Linked DNA regions of Homo sapiens: all the other regions are reported to be linked to region 3. Evidence: microRNA targets listed by miRTarBase, many of them from high-throughput screens and not tested one by one. Region 3 holds a microRNA gene; each other region holds the end of a gene's coding sequence. Distances are between the middles of the regions.
Evidence for each region. Region 3 holds the annotated microRNA hsa-miR-4531 (AUGGAGAAGGCUUCUGA, at 2,064-2,080, opposite strand). A microRNA usually pairs through its seed, bases 2 to 8, with sites in the 3' UTR of a target mRNA and lowers its output. Matches are read on the target gene's strand: a 7mer-m8 pairs with bases 2 to 8, a 7mer-A1 pairs with bases 2 to 7 and ends in A, and an 8mer does both.

Region 1: miRTarBase lists ZNF550 as a target of hsa-miR-4531. The part of its 3' UTR that is shown has no 7-base or 8-base seed match.
Region 2: miRTarBase lists KIAA1958 as a target of hsa-miR-4531. Seed matches in the 3' UTR shown: 7mer-m8 at 1,188-1,194.
Region 4: miRTarBase lists NEUROD1 as a target of hsa-miR-4531. Seed matches in the 3' UTR shown: 7mer-A1 at 1,254-1,260.

What each region holds. Positions count from the first base shown.
Region 1 is chr19:57,544,309-57,547,532 of GRCh38, reverse strand. ZNF550 (zinc finger protein 550) reads left to right here. Exons shown (of 4, transcript NM_001397372.1): 4 at 1-3,224. The coding sequence ends at 558. Among named protein-coding and RNA genes, the nearest start is that of ZNF550, 14 kb to the left of the region's middle.
Region 2 is chr9:112,659,716-112,662,939 of GRCh38, reverse strand. It overlaps KIAA1958, which reads right to left. Exons shown (of 4, transcript NM_133465.4): 4 at 1-3,224. The coding sequence ends at 2,871. Among named protein-coding and RNA genes, the nearest start is that of INIP, 57 kb to the left of the region's middle. RefSeq lists a silencer at 2,245-2,445.
Region 3 is chr19:44,651,626-44,654,625 of GRCh38, forward strand. It overlaps MIR4531 (microRNA 4531), which reads right to left and starts at 2,107; the gene lies at 2,061-2,107. PVR (PVR cell adhesion molecule) reads left to right here. Exons shown (of 8, transcript NM_006505.5): 4 at 2,275-2,392.
Region 4 is chr2:181,675,187-181,678,410 of GRCh38, reverse strand. NEUROD1 (neuronal differentiation 1) reads left to right here. Exons shown (of 2, transcript NM_002500.5): 2 at 1-1,944. The coding sequence ends at 621. Among named protein-coding and RNA genes, the nearest start is that of NEUROD1, 3.7 kb to the left of the region's middle.

The sequences.
Region 1 (3,224 bases), 13 Mb from region 3:
AAAGCCTTTAGCCAGAGCTCAACTCTCATTCGGCACTACCTCATCCACACCGGGGAGAAACCATACAAGTGCCTTGAGTGTGGGAAGGCCTTCAAACGCAGGTCGTACCTCATGCAGCACCATCCAATCCACACTGGAGAGAAACCCTATGAGTGTAGTCAATGTCGAAAGGCCTTCACCCACCGGTCTACTTTTATTCGCCATAATAGGACCCACACTGGAGAAAAGCCCTTTGAGTGCAAAGAATGTGAGAAAGCCTTTAGCAATAGAGCCCACCTAATTCAACATTACATCATCCACACTGGAGAGAAGCCCTATGATTGCATGGCATGTGGAAAGGCCTTCAGATGCAGCTCAGAACTCATACAGCACCAGCGGATTCACACTGGGGAGAAGCCCTATGAATGCACCCAGTGTGGGAAAGCCTTTCACCGGAGCACGTACCTCATTCAGCACTCTGTCATCCACACTGGGGAGATGCCCTACAAGTGTATCGAGTGTGGGAAGGCCTTCAAACGCAGGTCACACCTTCTGCAGCACCAAAGGGTCCATACATGAGAGAACCCTATTGCTGCAATGAATACAGCAAGGCCTTTACCCACTGTTATTTTATCATTCATAATGGGACCCACACTGTAGGAAGAAGTCCTTCGAATGCAAAGAATGTCAGGAAACTTTTCATTTTTTTTGTCAGCTCTTTCTTAACTAACACATGAGCAGTCACTTTGGAGAGAAGCCCTGTGAATACAGTGAATGTAAGGATCCCTTCAGTCACCACTCAGTTCTCACTCATTGCAGAAGGATTCATACCAGGGGGAAATGTGGAAGGCATTCCATCAACATCAGAGAACTCATGCTGGAGAAAGACATTCCAAATATAACTATTAAGGACAGTCTTTGGCCAGAGCAGAAATCTTACTATCTGAGAATCATAATGAAAAGTTACTACATAATTGTTATTGATGTGAGAAAACTTTGTGACCAGGTTGTCACTTGCTTGTCCTATAAAGAGCCATGCTGGAATTTGACCCACCTTGGGATTTTCTCTATGAACTTATGAAAACCTTCAGTTACAGGTATCTTCTTGCTTTATGTCCTTACAGACTTCCCTGTAAGATCAGTTTTATTTTTTGGTAGGGGAATGTTTGAGAGGTAAAGGGGTTTTATTCCTTTTTTTTTTTTTTAACATACATTCACTGCCATCCTTTGTCAGAGTTAGACAGTGAGGGCAGCTCTTCAGGCATTTCTTGGAAGTTGCCTTTGATCCAGACATCTCTGGGAGGATATCCATGAGGAGAGTAATTCTTTGTGAGAAATATGAAGGCTTGTGTCATGAGATTCTTGAATTTAGTAGAAATTAGAATACTGAGAACATCTTCATGTGACACTTCTTTTTTATATCTAGGGTGAGAAGAACCCATGTACAGATGGCCACATTAAAATGTGCACCACATTAAAATGTGCAATACCTAAGACTGTTTAAGGCTTTGATTTTTATTAATAAACTCATTATTTTTTAAGAGACAGGGACTTGCTCTGTCACCCAGGCTAGAGTGCAGTGGCATGATCATAGTTCCCTGTAACCTCGAACTCCTGGGCTCAAATGGTCCTCTTGCCTCAAGTTTCTGAGTAGCTTGGGATACAGGCATACACCACTACGCCTGGCTAATGTTTGTAATTTTAGTAGAGACAAGGTTTTACCATGTTGGCTGGGCTGGTCTGGAACTCCTGGCTTCAAGTGGTCCACCTGCCTTGGCCTCCCAAAGTTCTGGGATTACAGGTGTGAGTCACTGCACCCAGCCTTAAATTTTTTTGTATAGATGAGGTCTTGCTGTGTTCCCCAGATTTGTCTCAAACTGCTAGACTCAAGTCATCATCCTGCTTAGCCTCCTAAAGTGTTGGGATTACAGGTGTGAGCCACCACACCTAGCCTAATATGGTTTCAAATGCTCAGCACTCTCACATTTTCCTGATTCCATTCTGTCTGTTTGTTGTCTTTATTTTCTCTGGCAACATAGTGATCACTTTGTACTTGCTTGGCCTTCTCAGATGAGTCCTAATTCTTTCTGGTGTTTATCAGATTCTTTAATCCTGTGTAGAGGGGTATTTTTAGGTCCCCCTCAGCATTTTTCTAGGGATTGAATTATAGCTAAAACAGGCAAAATAAAACACACAACTAAGATGAATCCATGGTAAACCCAGTAAACCCAAGAAAACAACATGGAGAGGAATCTCATTGTCTGATCTTATAAACATTTGCGTGAAGTTTTGCTACAAAATAAAGTGCCTAGCATTTTAACAGGTGAATCAGGATATACGTGGGCAGGTTTACGTGAGTTTCATAGTTAACCACCATGACCTTAGTCCCTTGGTGCTAGCACTGAATATGGTAATTAGTTTTGTTGTGTTTTGAGATGGAGTCTCACTCCGCTGCCTAGGCTGGAGTGCAGGAGTGCGATCTTGGCTCATTGCAACCTCTGCCTCCCGGGTTCAAGCGATTCTCCTGCCTCAGCCTCCCAAGAAGCTGGGATTACAGGCATGTACTACCATGCCCAGCTAATTTTTGTATTTTTAGTAGAGACAGGGTTTTGCCATGTTGCCCAGGCTGGTCTCGAACTCCTGACCTCAGGTGATCCACCCACCTCAGCCTGCCAAAAAGCTGGGATTACAGGTGTGAGCCACTGTACTTAGCCTGAATCTGGTAATTTGAAATTCCTTTTGTGAGATTTTCTTTTAGTTTTCAAGCTACATGAGATAATGTTAGGTTAAAACGTGTGAAAAATAGAAAATTATCATTTTCTCACTTTGAGCTTTCCTCACAACCTTTTAAAGCACTGCATATATATTCATGTTTTCATAGTGGGCATGTACCTTTTACTGTGGTCCTTTTGCACATATTATAAATAGAATTCTTGGTGAGTTAAGAGTTCTCTGTTTTTGTTTTTTCAGGACAGAGTGCACAGTTTCCTCTCCTGTGGGAAGGAGAGTTGACTCTTGAGGACCCCCACCCTCCTGCATCCTCTCTCTGGAAGGCTGCATGTATTGTAGCTGTGGCTGTACTTGTACCTAAGGCCCTGGGTTCAAGAGAGTTGGAGAAACCCCTCTAGAAACATATTGGCTGTCATCAAAGGGTTCTTTCCAGGCCTGAGGACCTAGGCCCCAGTTTGTCCCAAAGCAGGAGTGTTTTCCATGGGATAAAGGACACCCTAGGTTTTTCTTAGCTT
Region 2 (3,224 bases), not on the chromosome of region 3:
AAGGTAAGGTTTAGAGCTGACTGGAAGCCAGAACAACTGCCTTAGAACGCCAACGAGGACTGCTACTCTGGCCCCCTTAAGACCTCGGAGGACGGCTTTGGCCAAACACATGGACAGGTGCTTCGCCATTTTATTTTTTATTTTTTTTGAGATGGAGTCTAGCTTTGTTGCCCAGGCTGGAGTGCAGTGGCATGGTCTCGGCTCACTGCAACCTCCGCCTCCCAGGTTCAAGCAATTCTCCTGCTTCAGACTCTCAAGTAGCTGGGATTACAGGCACCTGCCACCACGCCCGGCTAATTTTTGTATTTTTAGTAGAGATGGGGTTTCACCATGTTGGTCCTGATCTTGAACTCCTGACCTCAAGTGATCTGCCCACCTTGGCCTCCCAAAGTGCTGGGATTATAGGCGTGAGCCACGCGCCAGGCCGCTTTGCCATTTTAGCAGGCTTACCAGGCTTAACCACATATTGTGCGTGTGTGTGTGTAAACACTTATGTATATGTGTTTGTGTGTATACACAGACACACACACATATACATAAATGCATAATAAAGTACCTAGTACAATGGGTGGCACACGCTGGCACTTGATGACTGTGTTTTCTTCCTCACTCTTGTTTCCCAAGGTGGCATGTCACAAACAGCTTTTAGGCTGCTCAGACACAGTTCTTTCATTCCATCAGATGCCACTGAAGATTCGCCCTCCTGATTATTAATTATAATAATTCACTTCAGAACCCAGGGATTTTATGGAACATCAACTAGGTGACAGGCAACACATTTGAGGCAGAGATGATTATTTAGCTGATGAAAAGCCACTACCAACAGAAAGATTACAACCTCTGGAGTAGTTATTGCTACCTTTGAAAAGGTCAAAATCCGAAAAGATCCCAGTGATTCCTAACGGCAATTTCTACTTGAATCTATTCAAATAAAAATGGAGGTTTTAATTAATTAGGCTGCAGGCTTTGCCCAATAGTTCACATAGGTTGTATTTCAGTTTAAGTGCAGAACCAACAAAACAAAATATCCTTTGGGTGTTTAGCAAACTAAAGGAAATTGTACCTAATGTTTTGTGTATTTCTTTTAAATCAAAACCCTAAGATCACTACAGGAAACCACACCAGAACGTTATGTGATATCAAGTCATACACTGATGATTAAATATTACCTGTTATTTATATACAGATGGAGAAATGCCGAAACTAATCTCTATTCAGGAAAGGTCAACTAGTAAACAAACTTATAAATGCACAGTGACTAAAAAGGGAATAACATTAAATCTTAAGGCAGCATTGGTTGAGTCTTCTCTGGTAAAGGAAGTATTACATATGTCAATGACTAGTGTATGATTTTTTAAGAAACCAATTAATTAAAATAAATACTAAAATAATGTTTTCAAAAAGAAAGAGGACTGATTTTAAGACTTCTACAAAATGAATTTGTATTAGAGTTTTAATTTGGGATTAGAAAGCATATTAGGAGCATAATGGAATAAAGTTACACAAGATTTTCCTCAAATGCAAAGTCAAGGTCCCTAGAAATTATTGTTACTCTTAATGAGCACTCTTTGAGCTCCTTTTTCACTTGTTGTTGCACTCAGAGTAGTTATTAGAAAATTCTGCTGATTTTTAAATAATGTGGTCAGGTTGCATTTTACCTGAGTGAAATGGTTTCAAACTGCATTACCTACCATTATGCGCTAATTTTATAACTACATCCTTAATGCTGAGTTTGCTTACCTGGTGGGGTGCCTAAATCATCGTGTCCCAAGTATTGGTGCCATCCTAAAATGATGACATGTAATTGTGGCTGAAAAGTCATACATTGACAAAAATATTCCAAATCTCTTTAATAAAGAAAGTTTGGGGATCTGTGTTTTTTGCAGCTTGTTTGGTTAGCTTTTCTTGGCTAAGACTAAAAATTACCTTTAGTTGTTTTATAGATCCAGTGGTATATGCTGACCGAATAATGGGATGACACGAAGAACAGACAGAAACCTCAAAAAATGTTCCAATCAAAGGAGCTCTCACATGGTGCTGAGAAATAAAACATAGGCACTTCTGCTTCAGGAGGTTTTCACATTTTGATCACAGATTGGCTTTTCCAAGCCATTTTCCTTCACTACTAGAAATTCCCTCATGGTACAAACTGTCTAGTTCACTAGAAGCCTTGTTCTCACAGACACCCTTCTGGTGCGTGAATCTTTTATCATAAAATTCTCTCCATTGACAGCCGAGATGGGGTTCCTACCGCTGCTGGGAGCCGTGGGAGCAGCCCAAGTCCTTGTCAGATGACCAAGTGTCGCTTGAGGATACTCCCCGACACAAGGCTGCCTGCCCTCCAGAACCACCTTATCCACCAACAGAAAAAAAAGGCGCATCAAGCGCAATCTGTCTCCTGGAAATAGGGAACGTGTCTGCCTCTCTCTAGTTTCTAATTGTGAGTGTAATTCAACAAAGTGTACAGTCTTCCTAACGTTCTAAAGCTACTGCGCTACTGGGATTTTTTTTTTAAACGACTACTTAACAGTTTCCTTTTTTGTTTGTTTGTTTTGAGAAAACCTGTGCTAGAAAGGCACTAGAGAAAATGAATTTCCTCACTCTTGTATGTAACAATTATACATTGTGTTAGATTCTAAAAGCTAACGAAGTTGACGCACATTTGGATAAACCATCCGAATGATTTAGACTCATCTAGTTTCATTTTAAAAAGCAAACCCCAAGTCAAAGGGAGGGCAGGCCACACCAGGGGAGAGCCGCCAGACCGGGAGGTCACACCTGGTCAGCCCCTGCCTCCAAGGAGCTCCAGCTGCTCCAACCCTGGCTGGCCCGAGCAGGTGACAGGGCAGTGGCCGGGCCCCAGTGGGGGCTCACTGGCAGCAGCTGTGGGAGCCAAGCCTCCGGGAGACCTGAGTGAACGAGACAAAGGTGAAGTTCTCACAGTTTTCCAGCTTGACCTTCTTGGCTAAGTTTGGGACAATTCCCCGAAGAGAGCGCAGCCCCATCCTCTGCTCCTCATACCACACGCTGCCCATGTCTGTGGCCTCCTTCCTGGCAGTCAGGTAGAAGGGGGACTTGGCCTCCATTTGGGTGGGCGGCCGGTGGATGTACATGTACTTGTAGAGGAGGCAGTAAGGGCACTGTTTGTGTCCCCGGGAATGCTCATGGTAGATCTTCCCGTGACACACTCTGGTGGAGCCGCTCCGACTCTCCCGCTTGACGCT
Region 3 (3,000 bases):
ACATCACCACACTGGCCTCCTTGTGTTCTGTCTGCACAGCCCCCTGACAGCATCTGTCCTGATTCTCCTGCACAGCGTTACCTCCACCAGCTCCCTCATGGCATCATCGACATTGACACCCACACATTTATCTCCACTGACAGCCCCAGGACTCTCTAACCAGTGCTGTCTAACAGAAATAGCATGCAAGCTGCATATAGGATTTTAAATTCTCCAGCGGCCACCCCATTAAAAAATTAAAAGAAAGAGGCCAGGCACGGTGGCTCACGCCTGTAATCCCAGCACTTTGGGAGGCCGAGGCAGGTGGATCACCTGAGGTCAGGCATTCAAGACCAGCCTGATCAATGTGGTGAAACTCTGTCTTCACTAAAAAATACAAAAATTAGCCAGGCACGGTGGCGGGTGCCTGTAATCCCAGCTACTCGGGAGACTGAGGCAGGAGAATCACTTGAACCTGGGAGGCGGAGATTGCAATGAGCGAGATTACGCCATTGCACTCCAGCCTGGGCAGCAGAGCAAAACTCCATCTCAAAAACAAGAAAAGAAAGAGATGAAATTTATTTGTTTATTTATTTATCTATTTATTTATTTGAGACGGGGTCTTACTCTGTCACCCAGACTGGAGTGCAGTGGCACAGCTCCCTGCAGCCTCAACCTCCTGGGCTTAAGTGATCCTCCCACCTCAGCCTCAGTCTCCTGAGTAGCTGGGACTACAGGCGTGTGACACCATGCCTAGCTAATTTTTGTTTTTGTTTTTGTTTTTGTTTTTTTGTTTTGTGATGAAGTCTTGCTCTGTCACCCAGGCTAGAGTGCAGTGGCACGATCTCAACTCACTGCAGCCTCCGCCTCTCGGGTTCAAGTGATTCTCCTGCCTCAGCCTCCCGAGTAGCTGGGATTACAAGCCCTGGCCACAGTGCCCAGCTAATTTTTGTATTTGTGGTAGAGACGGGATTTCACCATGTTGGCCAGGCTGGTCTCAAACTCCTGACCTCGTGATCCACCCACCTTGGCCTCCCAAATTGCTGGGATTACAGACGTGAGCCACCGCACCCGGCCTATTTTTATTTTTTCTGGAGACAGGATCTCCCTATGTTGCCCAGGCTGGTCTCAAACTCCTGGGCTCAAGTGATCCTCCTGCCTCAACCTCCCAAGGTACTGGGATTACAGGCATGAGCCACTGTGCCTGGCCAAAATTAATTTTTAATAATTGCCTTTACTTAACCCAATATACCTAAAATATTATTTCAACTTGTAATTGTTTTTTTAAAATTATTCTTGAGATCTTTCCCATTTATTTTGTCCTAGTAAAGCCTTTGAAATCTGGTGTGTATTTCGGCCTGGCTATATTTCGAGTGCTCAGTAGTCACATGTGGCCAGTAGGTGCCATATTGGACAGCACAGATCTAGACTAAGCTCCCACATCATCTACACTGGCTCATCCAAATACTGTCTACACACATACACAGAGCCTGTCTTAATTTCGTCAGCTCCCGGGGACACACTGTATATGTGGGGGTGATCTCACCCCCACCACCACATTTTCAACACTGGCCCGACAATATAGCATCTGCTGTAATATTCCAACACCCTGTCTACACTGAACCCATCAGTAATATCCACACAAGCTCTTCTAGACATCATTCATACTGTTCCTCCCACCATTGTCTATACTGCTTACTCCCCGCCAGGCAATTGGTACACAGATTCCCTCAGGTACTGTCTATACTGGAGTCCCTCAACACTGTCACTGGGTCTGAGCGAGGAGGAGATCTACACTGACTCCTACCCCTCGCCCCCGAATAAAACCCTGTCCCATTGGCCTGCCCCCAAGGACATTGAAAGGTCTTCGCTGTCAATCACGTATGGGATGGCTGAGCAGCAGCCTAGAGCAGGGTTATCTGGGACTCTTTCCTGCAGGACTTGTCAGAACCTTGAATACACTGCTGTGTGTTGTGAGTGGTCATTGCCTATGAGTGAGAAAAGGAGGAGGCATTTTCCTGCAGGACACCCAAGACATGCCTGGTCCAGGCTACCCAGGAAAGCTAGTGGAGAAAAGCAGCTCCTCAGAAGCCTTCTCCATGTCCCCACTGACCAAGGACTCCTAGGCTTCTGCTCTCTGTGGCACCCCATCTACCTAGACTCCTCCTAGGCCTCTCCAGCTCCCGCTGTTTTCCAAATATCCCCGGGCCTTTTCCTGCAGTGTCGTGAATCCCGCGTAGCCCCAGGCCCCCCAAAGCCTCCCAGTCTCTGAACCTCTGTATCCATTTCCTGCAGACCCCCCAGAGGTATCCATCTCTGGCTATGATAACAACTGGTACCTTGGCCAGAATGAGGCCACCCTGACCTGCGATGCTCGCAGCAACCCAGAGCCCACAGGCTATAATTGGAGCACGTGAGTCCTGGGTCTCAGGGAGGAGGGGCTGGGGGTCTGGATTTCTAGCACTGAGGGAGGAGGGGCTGGGGGCCTGGACTCCTGGGACTGAGGGAGAAGGGGCTGGGGGCCCGGACCCCTGGGTCTGAGGGACGAGAGGCTGGGAGCCCGGACTCCTGGGTCTGAGGGAAGAGGGGCTGGGGGTCTGGACCCCTGGGACTGAGAGAGGAGGGGCTGGGCCTGGACCCCTGGGTCTGAGGGAGGAGGGGCTGGGGGGTCTGGACCCCTGGGTCTGAGGGAGGAGAAGCTGGGAGCCTGGACCCCTGGGTCTGAGGCAGGACAGACTGGGGCCTGGACTCCTGGTCTAAGAGAGGAGGGAGATTCAGAAAAGAGAAAAAGAGGAGGTTGACTTCGGGCCCCCAGTGGGGGGCATCTCTGTTTTGACATCTCTGTTTTGCGGTTGAGGCGTTTAGCAGGTGGTTGAATCCTGGCTGGTGGATGCACCTGCTTTTTGGGGTGTGCCTGCTCTGTGCCCGGTACTTCCCCCGAATCCCATGTGACCCCATGCTGTGCACAGTCAGCAGCTGTTGCCCTGCCCAGGTTAAAGACCAGCCACGAGAGGGCAGAAG
Region 4 (3,224 bases), not on the chromosome of region 3:
TGGGCTCTGTCGGAGATCCTGCGCTCAGGCAAAAGCCCAGACCTGGTCTCCTTCGTTCAGACGCTTTGCAAGGGCTTATCCCAACCCACCACCAACCTGGTTGCGGGCTGCCTGCAACTCAATCCTCGGACTTTTCTGCCTGAGCAGAACCAGGACATGCCCCCCCACCTGCCGACGGCCAGCGCTTCCTTCCCTGTACACCCCTACTCCTACCAGTCGCCTGGGCTGCCCAGTCCGCCTTACGGTACCATGGACAGCTCCCATGTCTTCCACGTTAAGCCTCCGCCGCACGCCTACAGCGCAGCGCTGGAGCCCTTCTTTGAAAGCCCTCTGACTGATTGCACCAGCCCTTCCTTTGATGGACCCCTCAGCCCGCCGCTCAGCATCAATGGCAACTTCTCTTTCAAACACGAACCGTCCGCCGAGTTTGAGAAAAATTATGCCTTTACCATGCACTATCCTGCAGCGACACTGGCAGGGGCCCAAAGCCACGGATCAATCTTCTCAGGCACCGCTGCCCCTCGCTGCGAGATCCCCATAGACAATATTATGTCCTTCGATAGCCATTCACATCATGAGCGAGTCATGAGTGCCCAGCTCAATGCCATATTTCATGATTAGAGGCACGCCAGTTTCACCATTTCCGGGAAACGAACCCACTGTGCTTACAGTGACTGTCGTGTTTACAAAAGGCAGCCCTTTGGGTACTACTGCTGCAAAGTGCAAATACTCCAAGCTTCAAGTGATATATGTATTTATTGTCATTACTGCCTTTGGAAGAAACAGGGGATCAAAGTTCCTGTTCACCTTATGTATTATTTTCTATAGCTCTTCTATTTAAAAAATAAAAAAATACAGTAAAGTTTAAAAAATACACCACGAATTTGGTGTGGCTGTATTCAGATCGTATTAATTATCTGATCGGGATAACAAAATCACAAGCAATAATTAGGATCTATGCAATTTTTAAACTAGTAATGGGCCAATTAAAATATATATAAATATATATTTTTCAACCAGCATTTTACTACTTGTTACCTTTCCCATGCTGAATTATTTTGTTGTGATTTTGTACAGAATTTTTAATGACTTTTTATAATGTGGATTTCCTATTTTAAAACCATGCAGCTTCATCAATTTTTATACATATCAGAAAAGTAGAATTATATCTAATTTATACAAAATAATTTAACTAATTTAAACCAGCAGAAAAGTGCTTAGAAAGTTATTGTGTTGCCTTAGCACTTCTTTCCTCTCCAATTGTAAAAAAAAAAAAAAAAAAAAAAAAAAAAAAAAAATTGCACAATTTGAGCAATTCATTTCACTTTAAAGTCTTTCCGTCTCCCTAAAATAAAAACCAGAATCATAATTTTCAAGAGAAGAAAAAATTAAGAGATACATTCCCTATCAAAACATATCAATTCAACACATTACTTGCACAAGCTTGTATATACATATTATAAATAAATGCCAACATACCCTTCTTTAAATCAAAAGCTGCTTGACTATCACATACAATTTGCACTGTTACTTTTTAGTCTTTTACTCCTTTGCATTCCATGATTTTACAGAGAATCTGAAGCTATTGATGTTTCCAGAAAATATAAATGCATGATTTTATACATAGTCACAAAAATGGTGGTTTGTCATATATTCATGTAATAAATCTGAGCCTAAATCTAATCAGGTTGTTAATGTTGGGATTTATATCTATAGTAGTCAATTAGTACAGTAGCTTAAATAAATTCAAACCATTTAATTCATAATTAGAACAATAGCTATTGCATGTAAAATGCAGTCCAGAATAAGTGCTGTTTGAGATGTGATGCTGGTACCACTGGAATCGATCTGTACTGTAATTTTGTTTGTAATCCTGTATATTATGGTGTAATGCACAATTTAGAAAACATTCATCCAGTTGCAATAAAATAGTATTGAAAGTGAGAGCAATTGTTGCATTTCTTCTTAAAGGGATTCTGTTTTTATTTTTGGGGAAAGTAGTTGCTTTTTTGCTGAGTTAAAAAATACTAAACACTATATGTAGAATAAAAGAAAAGAAAAAAGTTTACCTTGGCATATGCTCTTGTCTGTTTATCTTGCACAGGGAGTCACCAGTTCTATGTAGATAATGAAAAGACCTAACTGATATTTCATTATTTGGAATATGGGACTGGACGGCAGTACAAACAGTGTGTTTTTTTCTTTGTTTTAAGTGGCTTAGCCTTTAGGTTTTTTATTTCCATTTTTAAAAATGATTGTTACATGTTTTCTTCTATTTCTTTTTTTAAAAGGTGGATTTTAATAATTATTAACAAGCAAGACATAAACAAGTATCCTAGCTTAGTTTGTCTATACATTTAAGATGTATAAAACATTACTATTTTCTTGGTCTTCTGTTATCTGTACATTTTTCTGAACTAAACAGTTTTATCTTGCAAACTAGTACTGTCCCAGAAAAATTTATACACCTTTAGGAAGTACCAAAGGGAAATGAGTTAATTAATTTAAAGAATCCAAGAGAAGTAACATTTTATAATTGTTCTATTAACATCTTGTGATGATTTCCATCATTTTTCCAAGAAAAAGCATAATGGATTATTTGTACTGAAGAACACACTATTTGTACTGTATTTAGGAAGGTGTAATTATTTCCTCCCCCCACCCTTTGGGGCACTATTCTGTTGTTTCATGAACACAACTCACTGGAAAAACTTATGGATGATTCTGTCTATTGTTAAGTCCACTTCAAAAAAAAAAAAACAGTTTGGCATTTCTTTTCCTCTGGATGTATTGACTGACAGTCATGATTCCTAGGGAATATCATTTTGGCACTTGTGCCCTGGCTCTACTGTGGTGCTCTGATTACTGTCATTAGTAACTCCATTGTTTCTACTCTGATTCGGGTGCCACATTGGATGACTACCCCCCTTCCCAAGCTTGTTCCTTTAATCTCCTTCTCATTGGTGATTTAGGGGTTCCAGAAAGCTGACCTCATTTAGCAAGCTGCTCCAGAAAAATGTGAGTAATGTAATGGACAGGAACAATTAGCCATACTAATAACATTGCCAATGAGGCTGCGTCAAGCTGTGACAGAAGCAGTAAGGAATACTTCGACGTTAAAAAAATGTTTGAGAGCAATTTAAAATATATTATTTTAACATGTTTTCTATCAGCCTTCATCACATGACAGAAATACTTTTAAGTTAGTCCCAACTTTATCTAAA